Regions from separate parts of the Homo sapiens genome. Here region 1 is linked to region 2. The links come from fine-mapping of genetic effects on gene expression. A gene starts in region 2. The other region holds a variant in brackets. All regions are shown on one strand. Distances are between the middles of the regions. Region 1 overlaps GPR39 (G protein-coupled receptor 39). Region 2 holds the start of GPR39 (G protein-coupled receptor 39).

Region 1 (5,482 bases), 160 kb before region 2:
TTTAAAATAGGGAACAAGGCAAGAATGTCTTTGTCACCACTGTTACTCAACATAGTACTGATAGGTCTAGCCAGGGCAACAGACAAAAAAGGGAAATAAAAGGCATACGGATTGAAAATGAAGAAGTAAAACTGCCCCTATTTGCAGATGGCATGATAGTTTATGTAGAAAATCCCAAGGAATCTTACCAAAAAAAATCTAGAATAAGTGAGTTCAATAAGGTTACAGGATACAAGGTCAACACAAAAAAAGTACTGCATTTCTACATGATCATAATGAACATATGGAAACCAACATTAAAAGACAATGCCACTTACAGTCAGTCACTCAAAGAAAATATTTATATATAAATCCAACAAATCATATATGTCTTATACACTAAAAACTATACAACGCTGTTGAAAGAAATCAAATATCTAAATAAACAGAGACTTACATGTTCATAAATTATAAGACTCAATATAGTACAGCTGTCAATTCTCCTCAAATTGATATACAGATTTAATACAATTCCTTTCAAAATCCACATAAGAGTTGTTGTTGATATAGATAAGGTTATTCTAATATTTATATTGAAAGGCAAAGGAACTAGAATATCAAGAATAATTTTTTTTTTTCTGAGACAGGGCCCAGGCTGGAGTGCAATGGCACAATCTTGGCTCACTGCAACCTCCACCTCCAAGGCTCAAGCAATCCTCCCACCTCAGTCTCCAAAGTAGCTGGGCCTACAGGTGTGTGCCACGACACCTGGTTAATTTTTGTATTTTTTGTAGAGATGGGGTTTCACCGTGTTGCCCAGGCTGGTCTCGAACTCCTGAGCTCAAGTGATACCCCCCACCTCAGCCTCCCAAAGTGCTGGGATTACAGGTGTGAGCCACCTTGCCCAGCCCCAAAAACAGTTTTGAAAAAAAAAAATGGGAGGAATTTGTCTACCTCATTTTGAGACTTATATAGCTAAAATAATCAAGAATGTGGTATTGGTAGAGGTATAGTCATATAGATCAATAAAACAAAATAAGGAAAACAAATTCAAACAAATATGCACAACCGATTTTTGATAAGCATGCCAAACAATTAAGTGGAGAAAAGATAGCCTTTTCAACAAATGGTATTGAAGCAACTGGACATCGGAGGCCAAAAAACAACAACAAAAACCTTGGCCTAAATCTCACACCCTTATGTGAAATTAACTCAAAATGGATCACAGACTTGCATATAAAACTAAATTTCTGTAAAATTTTAGAAAAAAAATTTAAAAAATGTTCAGGACTGAGGGCTAGGCTTAGTTTTAGTTTAGTTTTCTTGTTTTGGTGACAGAATCTTGCTCTGTTGCCCAGGCTGAAGTGCAGTGGTGCAATCTTGGCTCACTGCAGCCTCCACCTCCTGGGATCAAACAATTCTCATGCCTCAGCCTCCCAAGTAGCTGGGATTACAGGTGCACACCACCATGGCTGGCTAATTTTTATATTTTTAGTAGAGATGGGGTTTTGCCATGTTGGCCAGGCTGGTCTCGAATTCCTGGGCTCAAGTGATCTGCCTGCCTCAGACTCCTCAAGTGCTGTAATTACAGGTGTGAGCCATCACACCTGGCTAGGCTTAGCCTTGATATCAAAAGCACAATCCAAAAAAGAACTGATAAACCGCACTTTGTCAAAATTTAAAACTTTTGCTCTGTGATAGACCCTGTTAAGAGGAGAAAAAGATAAGCAACCAACTGAGAGAAAATATTTTCAGACCACATATCCAACAAAGGACTAACACCTAGAATATATAAACAACTCTCAAAATTCAACAGTAAAAAAAGAAATAATTCAATTAGAAAATGGGCAAAAGACAGTCATTGTCTGTTCAGACCGCTGTTAAAAATGCCATCGGTTGGGTGGTTTATAAACAACAGAAATTTATTTCTTAAGGTTCTGGAGACTAGGAAGTCCAAGATCAAGGTGCCAAGAGATTTGGTGTCTAGTGAGGGCCCACTTCCTGGTTCACAGAGTGCCGTCTTCTGGCGGTTTCCTCACATGTTAGAAGGAGTCCTCTGGGGTCTCCTTTACAATGGCACTAATACCATTCATGAGGCTTCTACCCTCATTACCCAACCACCACTCAAAGCTCCATCTCCTTATGCCATCACCTTGGGGGTCAGGATTACATCATATCAATTTTAGGAGGACAAACATTTAGACAACAGCAGATGTGAAGAGACAGTTCACTAAAGAGGAATTGTAGATGGTAAGTAAGCACATGCAGGACATTCAATATCATTAGCCCTTAGGGAAGTGCAAATTGGAACCACAGTGCAGTATCAGTATACACGTATCAGAATGTCTAAAGCAAAAAATAGTGACAACACCAGATGCTGACAAGGCTGCAGAAAACTGTGTCCCTCATACATTGCTAGTGGGAATGCGATATGGTACAACCACTCTGGAAAACAGTTTCACAGTTGCTTTAAAAAGTAAACACATCAGGAGGCTGAGGCAGGAGGATCAATTTAACTATCAATAGCAATATTCTGGCTGTAATATTTTAGTATAGTTTTCCAAGACATTGAGAGAAACTAGGTAGAAGGTGTGAGGGATCTCTTATTTCTTATAATTGCAGATGAATTTACCTTTATCTTAAAATACAAAGTTTAAACACAAAAGAAAACACAGATGAGTATTTAAGTGACTGCACAGTGAAAGATATTTTAAGCATAAAATCAATGGATTAAATTAAAAATGGAAAGATAGATCTGACTGTAAAGTCCTTAACTTTTTTATATGTCATAAAACTACAATAAACCATACAATAGAATACCATGGCATCATAAAAAGAGTAAGAAAGCTTTTATGTACTGATATAAAATGAACTCCAAAATGTTAGAAA[AAGAAAG/G]TTGAAGATTACAAATATTATATTTGTATAAAAAGGGAATATGAAAAAAATAAATGTAGAAATTTGTAGATACAGAATATGCAGAAGAAAGTTCTGACTATATACACAAAAATTGGTAATAATGGGTGCTTTCAGGAGGAAACCTCAGTCACAAAAGGGCAAGACTGGAGAGGAAACACTTTGCTCTCCTTAGTGCCTGTTTAATCTTAAACCAAGCAAATGTATTACTATTCAAAAAATACATTAATAATATTAGAAAAATACTAAGTTGTATCTTTTACAAAAGTTTTAAATACAAATAACAAGATGTTAACAGTAACTCTAATAGAATAAATTGTAACATTTATTCATTTAGCGACAAAGTCTCACTCTGTCACCCAGACTAGAGTGCAGTGGCAAGATCTTGGCTCGCTGCAACCTCCACCTCCTTGGTTAAAGCAATTCTCGTGCCTTGGCCACCTGAGTAGCTGGGATTACAGGTACACACCATCATGTCCAGCTAATTTTTGTATTTTTAGTAGAGACAGGATTTTGTCATGTTGGCCAGGCTGCTCTCTCTTGAAATCCTGGGGTCAAGAGATCTGCCTGCCTCAGCCTCCCAAAGTGCTGGGATTACAGGCATGAGCCACCATGTCTGGCCTGTAATATACTTAACATATAAAGAGTTCCTGTGAACTATGAAGAAAAATGTGTGAAGAGCATAAAGAGAATTTTTAGAAGTTGAAATACAAATGACTAATAAACATGCAAAGTAATACTTATCCTTATGAGTAGTCAAAGATATGTGAATTAGAGAGAAGCTATTTACCTACCAAATTGGCAATAGATTTTAAAAATAATATTCAATGCTGGCAAAAATGAATAAACATTCATTCAACACTGCCTCAGAAATGTGAGGTGGAACAATTTACAATGACAAGACATTGGAAACATCCAAAATGACCAAAGAGTGAGAAATGTTTAAATACAGCATGGTATATCCTTTCCCTGAATTATACAGACATTTATGATGATTTTGAAAAATGGCATTGGTTTACAATGTTCATGATATGATAAAAATATCAGCATGTGAAGCTGAATATACAAAGTTATGTCAATTAAAAATTTATAGTGCTCTAGCTTTAATTTCTTGATTGCAGAAAAGCAATACATTCTTCAAGGAAGAGTTAAAATCTAGCGTTTAACTGACTTTTGCTGGGGCTGCAAAAATGTCACATTGAAGTTCAAGAGGCTTTGCTTATTCTGCTTGGTTTTTCTCTCAGCCCCTAAAAGTTCCCCTGATGAAGGTAATTCTTTTCTTCCTATTACCCCTATCGGTGGCAGCTGACATTCGCATTCAATTAGCTTCAGAGACTTGCCTTAACACAGCTCAGATTCTTGGGTATGGAATCCTCTCCTTGCCCATTGAACTTGTCAGTCAATCCATCAGATGGGAGGGACCCAGGGGGATGGATCTTGAAGTTCAAAGGAAAAGCAAGAAACAATTTATCATCCAGGAATTGTTCCCACTTTGGCTCCCATGTCTGTCTCAATGGAAAGTGGCAAGTGGTTCTGATTACCTTTTTGTCACTCTAACTGCTGGAGGCCCTGTCTGCCAACTTTGCTGGGAGATTGGCACTCTGTCCTTGTGCAAATGCTATGCATGAAAATGCCTGGCCCTCTCCTTGCCCCTCTTTCCACATCACTCTGAAACCTTCCTGATTGCTTTTCTTATTTGGGAATCCAAGGTGTTGGTCAACAAAATGAGAAACAAGCAGTGAATTGGGGGATCTCCAAAGCTTCCTTGGTCAGCTATTGCCACAGAGGGAAAAATAGAGGAAGGAGGGGAAAATGGAGGCTTCTAAAGGTCTTCCAAATCTTTGAAAACAGTATTTTCCAGATTTCCCAACATAGTCTGTTGGAAACTTGTGGAAACATCTGGAAATTTCAGACCTGCCTCTGAGCATCTCTGAAGGGTAAGTAAGGACAAGAGTTTCAGCATCAGCCTTACCCATGGGGCAGTAGGGGCAGCAATGATGGGACATACAGCCCATGGCCATTGGGAGCAAGGGCCACCATTTCACTTCCACAATGGGCACCCATGTGTGCCTGGTCAGCATTCTTTCTTCTGGTAATAAAACCCACATCCTCCACTTGGGGAACCCACTCTTCCTGACTCTACCTCCACAGATGGGCATGTGACCAGTCCTGGCCATAACAGTATCTCATTTCCTTGGCTGAAATGATTCAGGGTTGGATAAAATGGTCCAAGAAAGACAAACCACAATCAATTCTATTATTTCTTCCCTAGGACTATGGAGAAGAAATTCTATTATTTCTTCCCTAGGACTTAGGCAGTGTGGCTATCTGACAGAGTGTAAACTTGTTGCTACCACTTGGGGGAAAGTGCCCGAGAGAATGGTGCCTGATGGAGCATAGCGGACTCCTATGGATATCTGGGATCACCTGGATTCAGCCATATGTGAACCCCTATAAGTTTTGGTTTCATGATTCAACAAATGCCTCCTCTCTTTTAAGATCTAGTTTAGAATGAGGTTTTTTTTTTTTTTTTAATCTCTTCTAACCCTATGAGTTCTGACTAATAAAAGCTCTCAGGAGAAACAACTAA
Region 2 (5,000 bases):
CTTTTAACAATTAATGACACACTGGAAGCCAGGGGCTGGTCTGAGGCAAGACCCAGGTCTTTCCATCATTCTCCAAGTGCCTTCCAACTCTCTCTCATGTCTACCTCCTGTCCCTGGAACCTGCTGCCCAGTTGCCCACACCAAAACAAACAGCACCATGATTTATTCCTTTTCCTGATGCCACAGGGGAGAGGGAAGAAGGGAAATGTTTGTTATATCTATTCCTTTTTGATTCACACACGCACAATACATCCTTTTTATTGTTTCTGCTAAAAAAATATATTTTAAAACCCTTTGTTCACACACATTTCATGTGTCTCCATTAAAGCCTTGTCTCCCAGCCACTAGGTCCCTCTTCTGAAGGCTCTGGGGTCAACAGACCTGTGGGCTCTTTTTAAATAGACGAGGCCTCAACTTTAAATACTTGTATCACAACAAAAGTTTGGAAAACAAGCATAAGAATTGGGTCTGTGAGGTGATTATTCAAATCCTAGGAATCGGTGAAGCCAGATTTTCTGGATCAGATAAACAGGCCGTCCTGCCAGGTTGCTCTGGTCTGGTAAGGAACAGACCCACAGTGGCAGAAACCCAAGCCCTGGGGAGTGCTGAGAGCTCCCATGTCTTAAGATTGGGTCGAAGAGGCTCCAAGGAATAAAATAGCAGCCCGAGAGTGTGTGTCGCTCACAGCCTGCTTTCTCCAAAGGAGGAGAAAAATGGGAACAAAATCTAATTGCACAAGAAAGTCTTCCCCGGGTAAAAGAGCTAGATAAGACGGTTCCCTGTATCTCTGCAGAACTTGGTCTTTTGCAAAGGACTTTCACCTGTCCTGCATTACCTAATTTGTCCGTCATATTCTCTAGTATTATTGTCCCCATTTTACCAAAGATTTTTGTGACTTCCCAAAGGTCACAGCAGTGATGTTCTGGAATATACCCAAACCTTCTGGGTTCTGGTCTCGTGCTCTTTTCACCATAATCTACCATGAATCCCCGAAACACAGAGAAGAAACATTCAGAGACCCAGAGCAATGCCCTCATACTGCTACAAGACTCTTCCACCTTAGTAAACTTAAGTGTGCAATTCTAGGGCAAGACTTGCCCTGGAGAGGGCCACAGGCAGTGGCACGGGTCGTGGGGGAAGGTTGGGAAGCTGCTCACGTGTTGCCCCCGACTTAGGACTCACTCAGGAAGATGATGGTCTGCCTCCTGGCGGTCCTGCTCTCTTCGCTCTCGGACTTCCTCAGCTGCGGAGGCCGCGTGCCCCCGGCCAGCGAGCCCTTCTGGCTTTTCATGAGCACCTGCATCATGTTCCAGCACATGAAGGCTACGGAGAGCAGGACCACGAGGTAGACCACGAAGGCGCCGAAGATGCTGGACTGGAACACGGTCCAGCGGCTGGAGAGGTTGGTACAGATGGACATATTGGAGGTCTCGGGCTGCTCGTGGTGGCGGGTGCTGGAGCGGTTGCAAGTGAGACCCCGGTGGCTGGGCACGTTCACCAGGGGGTACTCAGTACCCATGGCAAACAGCAAGGGCAGTGCCACCAGGGCGGAGGTGACCCAGACGAAGCCAATCAGCAGCTTCACCTGGCAAGGTCCCGACACAGCCTTGTACCTGAAGGGGTGACAGATGGCGATGTAGCGCTCAAAGCTGAGTGTCAGCACGTGCAGCAGCGTAGCGTAGCTGCAGGCCTCGAAGAGGAAAGTGTGCAGCTTGCAGGACAGGGTGTAGCTGGACGTGGTCAGGGGATTCCAGATGATGCTGTAGAACTCCATGGGCATGCCGATGAGGAACACCAAGATGTCCGAGCAAGCCAAACTCACCATGTGGTCTGTCACCTCCTTCTGCAAGTATCCTTTCTTCTGCAGCACCTGGGTGACCCGAATGGTGGCGCTGTTCCCCAGAAGGCCCATCACGAAGATGATCAGGTACACCAGAATAAGGGTGATTTTGATCCAGGTGGCCACCTCAAACTCGGGGACATGACTGTGATCAATGATTTGGGAGCAGTCACTGCCCGGGAGGCTGGGTGAAGCCATGAGAAAGAGCACCAGGCTACCAGGTCCAAAGACTTTCTCAACTTCCCTTTCTCCTCCCAGCAGCGTCCAAAATTCTTGGCTGCAAACTCACCTGCGTGGGCGCACGATTTTATCTCACTCGAGTTCTCCTCGCGAAGGTAACTTAGTATTTCAGGTGCTTTCATGGAAACTTGCTGGAGCAGCCCAACCTAGGAGAGGCCCAGGAGGCGCCTGGGTGTTGAGGTTTGGGAGTGTATGTGGCTGGGGCGAGGCGGGGAGAGGGCGGAGGAAGAACGTTCTAAACTCCTGGCTGGCTGGGAGTGAGACCGCAGCACCTGGCGCTCCGCCTCTGCCCCTCTTCGCCGAGGGCGCACTCCGCCTCGCAGCACTCCTCTTCCTTTCCAGCTGCCGGCACTTGAGAGCCCCGGTCCACATTCCCAGAGCACCCTCTCCCGAGCTGCGGGAGGCGGGGTGGTCAGCGATTAATCATTAACCACAGCGGATTGTGCTCAGCGGCCCGGCTGCAGACCCAGCCCAGCGGCGGGGTTTGACTCAGCACATAGGCACGGTCCCTGAAATCAGATCGTGGCTCTCGAGCTACGAGCGACCCACCCCCGCCCCACCCTCCGTCACCCAGGCGGCAGCCGCAGAGGCAGCTGCGGCGCTCCAACCCGACAAGCGTCCCAAGGAGGTGCAGCCCCGGGGAAGCTGGCGACCCTCCCGAGCTGGGAGAAAGACAAACTTCCTCTCGCCCGCACTGCCCCCACGTCCACCGCTGCCCTGGGGGCCCCCTTCGAAGGCGAGGTCACGGCCCGTTTGGTGGTGGCTTGACCGGGGCGTCCCAGAGGAGCCAGCAAGCCCTCGCCTCCTCTGTGGGGTGTTTGCCAAGGACAGCTGGGCTCTGCGCTGCTTGCAGCCGCTGCTCCAGGAAGTCGGCCCCAAGCAGGCTTGCAGGATTCACTATAGAATCCCTGCCTTTCCCCAGAGCCTGCCGGTGTTCTGCGCAGGGCCCTGCCTCGCCTTCCCACGGAGGGACGCGAAGACCCCGGGGTCTCTTCTTTCAGTTTCGCTCCAAGGTGCAGCCGCTTTCCCGGCAGCGGGACGTCTTTTAATTGGGGACATGTATATGGATGAGGATGGCACTCCGCCAGCAAGCCCCAGGTGGGAAGCATGCCCTCCGGAGGGAGCTGTGCCTAGAACGTCGAAGACAGCAGGAGGAGCTGAAGGCTCTGACAAGGCCGTCATGTAAAAACAGCATTAAGGATCATGACCTTTTCCCTCGAATGGACCCATTTTCGTCTTTTAATTCCACAATCAGAGGGAATGAGCAATGAAGGGGGAGGAAGGCTGCCTTATGCGTTCTAGGATGTTTAGCACCTGCATACACACATCCATAGGGACAGCCAAATGTCTCCAGACATTGCTAAATGCCCCTTGCCAGGGAGTGGCAAAGTCAAAGTCAGAACCTCTGCCTCAAAGGAAGAACATGGATCCCCTTTATCTGTACATTCTAGGGGCCTAGCACAAGCCCTCTGTGCTGAAAACATCTCTGAATTATCCCAATCGCCACATCGATGCAATCATTTTAAAGATGAAGCAATTCTGCTGTCTGGAGGACCTATGCTTCCCCAAGGCCATAAAAGAGTGAGTGAGAGCAAGGTCTTACTCAGATGTGGAATATAAAATAAAGTTAAATACATAGAAACAAAGAGTAGAAAGGTGGTTACCAAGGCCTGGGAGGGAGAGGAAATGGGGACATGTAGGTCAAAGGACAAAATGAATAAGTCTACAGATTTATCATACAGCCACAGGACAACAGTTAATAATGTTGCAATGTAGATTGAAAATTTGCAGAGAGAGTCCATTTTAGGTGCAACACACACAAAAAGTCACTGTGGAAGATGACAGACACCTTACTTTGCTTGACTGTGGTAATCATTTCACTTTGTATATCAAAACATCATGCTGCACACCTTAAATATATATGATTTTTAAAAAATGGTTAGTGACAGACTTGGAAATTAATCCAGATCAGTCTGACCCCTGAGTTTGTACTCCTAATTCTGGGAATGCAGTAGGTGCTTAGGAAATTCATCCTGAATGGTGCACATAGAAACATGGGACTGTACTTTTTTGGGGGGGGGAGGGGACGGAGTTTTGCTCTTTTTGCCCAGGCTGGAGTGCAATGGCGCCATCTCGGCTCACTGGCAACCTCTGCCTCCCGGGTTCAAGTGATTCTCCTGCCTCAGCCTCCTGCGTAGCTGGGATTACAGGTGCGTGCCACTACACCCGGCTAATTTTTTGTATTTTTAGTAGAGACAGGGTTTCACCATGTTGGCCAGGCTGCTCTTGAACTCCTGACCTCAGGTGATCTGCCCACCTCGGCTTCCCAAAGTGCTGGGATTACAGGTGTGAGCCACTGCGCCCGGCCAGGACTGTACTTTCTGCACAGTGCACTGGAGCTATTGTCTGATGACCTCAAGGATTATTTGATTTTAATGCTGTCTAGGAGAAAAAAAAAATGCTGTATGGCCACTGGATCTTTAAAATTAGCTTCATATGTGCCTTTCATGTTTTCTCTTTCTTTGTTCTGTTAAATCACAAGCTCCAAAGCCAAGAAGTGTATCTTTTCCCTCTCTGACAGGTTGGCATAGCACCCTAAATAATGTGTTTTGTGGGCGGCCTCTCCACCCCCGATGTGTGCTACTTGACCTGCTTGTTGGCACTGGTGGAGAAACTCCTAACTCGTTTCCTCATTAGTGCACTGCATTCAGCTGAAGGACCTAGCTGACCTTTCATCTGTCCCACAACACTCACAGGAGTAGCGTAATGGGGGTAAGCATGGACTCCTGGGGCTTTTCTACTTGCAGATGAGGACTCTGAATCGACTTCTCTACGGCAGAGCCTGGTTGTTTGCTATCCCACAGGAAATTCATCCTGAATGGCACACACAGAAACACTGGACTGTACTAGGATGTACCCA

The links. PIP is the estimated chance that this variant, and not a neighbour inherited with it, causes the effect.
Region 1: its variant is the best candidate, but not a certain one, in a credible set for the expression of GPR39 in subcutaneous fat (FUSION, PIP 0.62).

Annotation. Positions count from the first base shown.
Region 1 is chr2:132,572,481-132,577,962 of GRCh38, reverse strand. All of the region lies in intron 1 of GPR39 (G protein-coupled receptor 39), which reads right to left. Among named protein-coding and RNA genes, the nearest start is that of LYPD1, 95 kb to the left of the region's middle. The variant AAGAAAG/G (reference allele first, on the strand shown) is at 2,869.
Region 2 is chr2:132,414,081-132,419,080 of GRCh38, reverse strand. It overlaps GPR39 (G protein-coupled receptor 39), which reads right to left and starts at 2,276. Exons shown (of 2, transcript NM_001508.3): 1 at 1,183-2,276. The coding sequence starts at 2,038. LOC124905948 reads left to right here and starts at 2,037. Exons shown (of 4, transcript XM_047446885.1): 1 at 2,037-2,175; 2 at 2,545-3,661; 3 at 4,662-4,852. The coding sequence starts at 2,037. The coding sequence ends at 3,266. RefSeq lists a silencer at 2,351-2,645 and an enhancer at 2,351-2,645.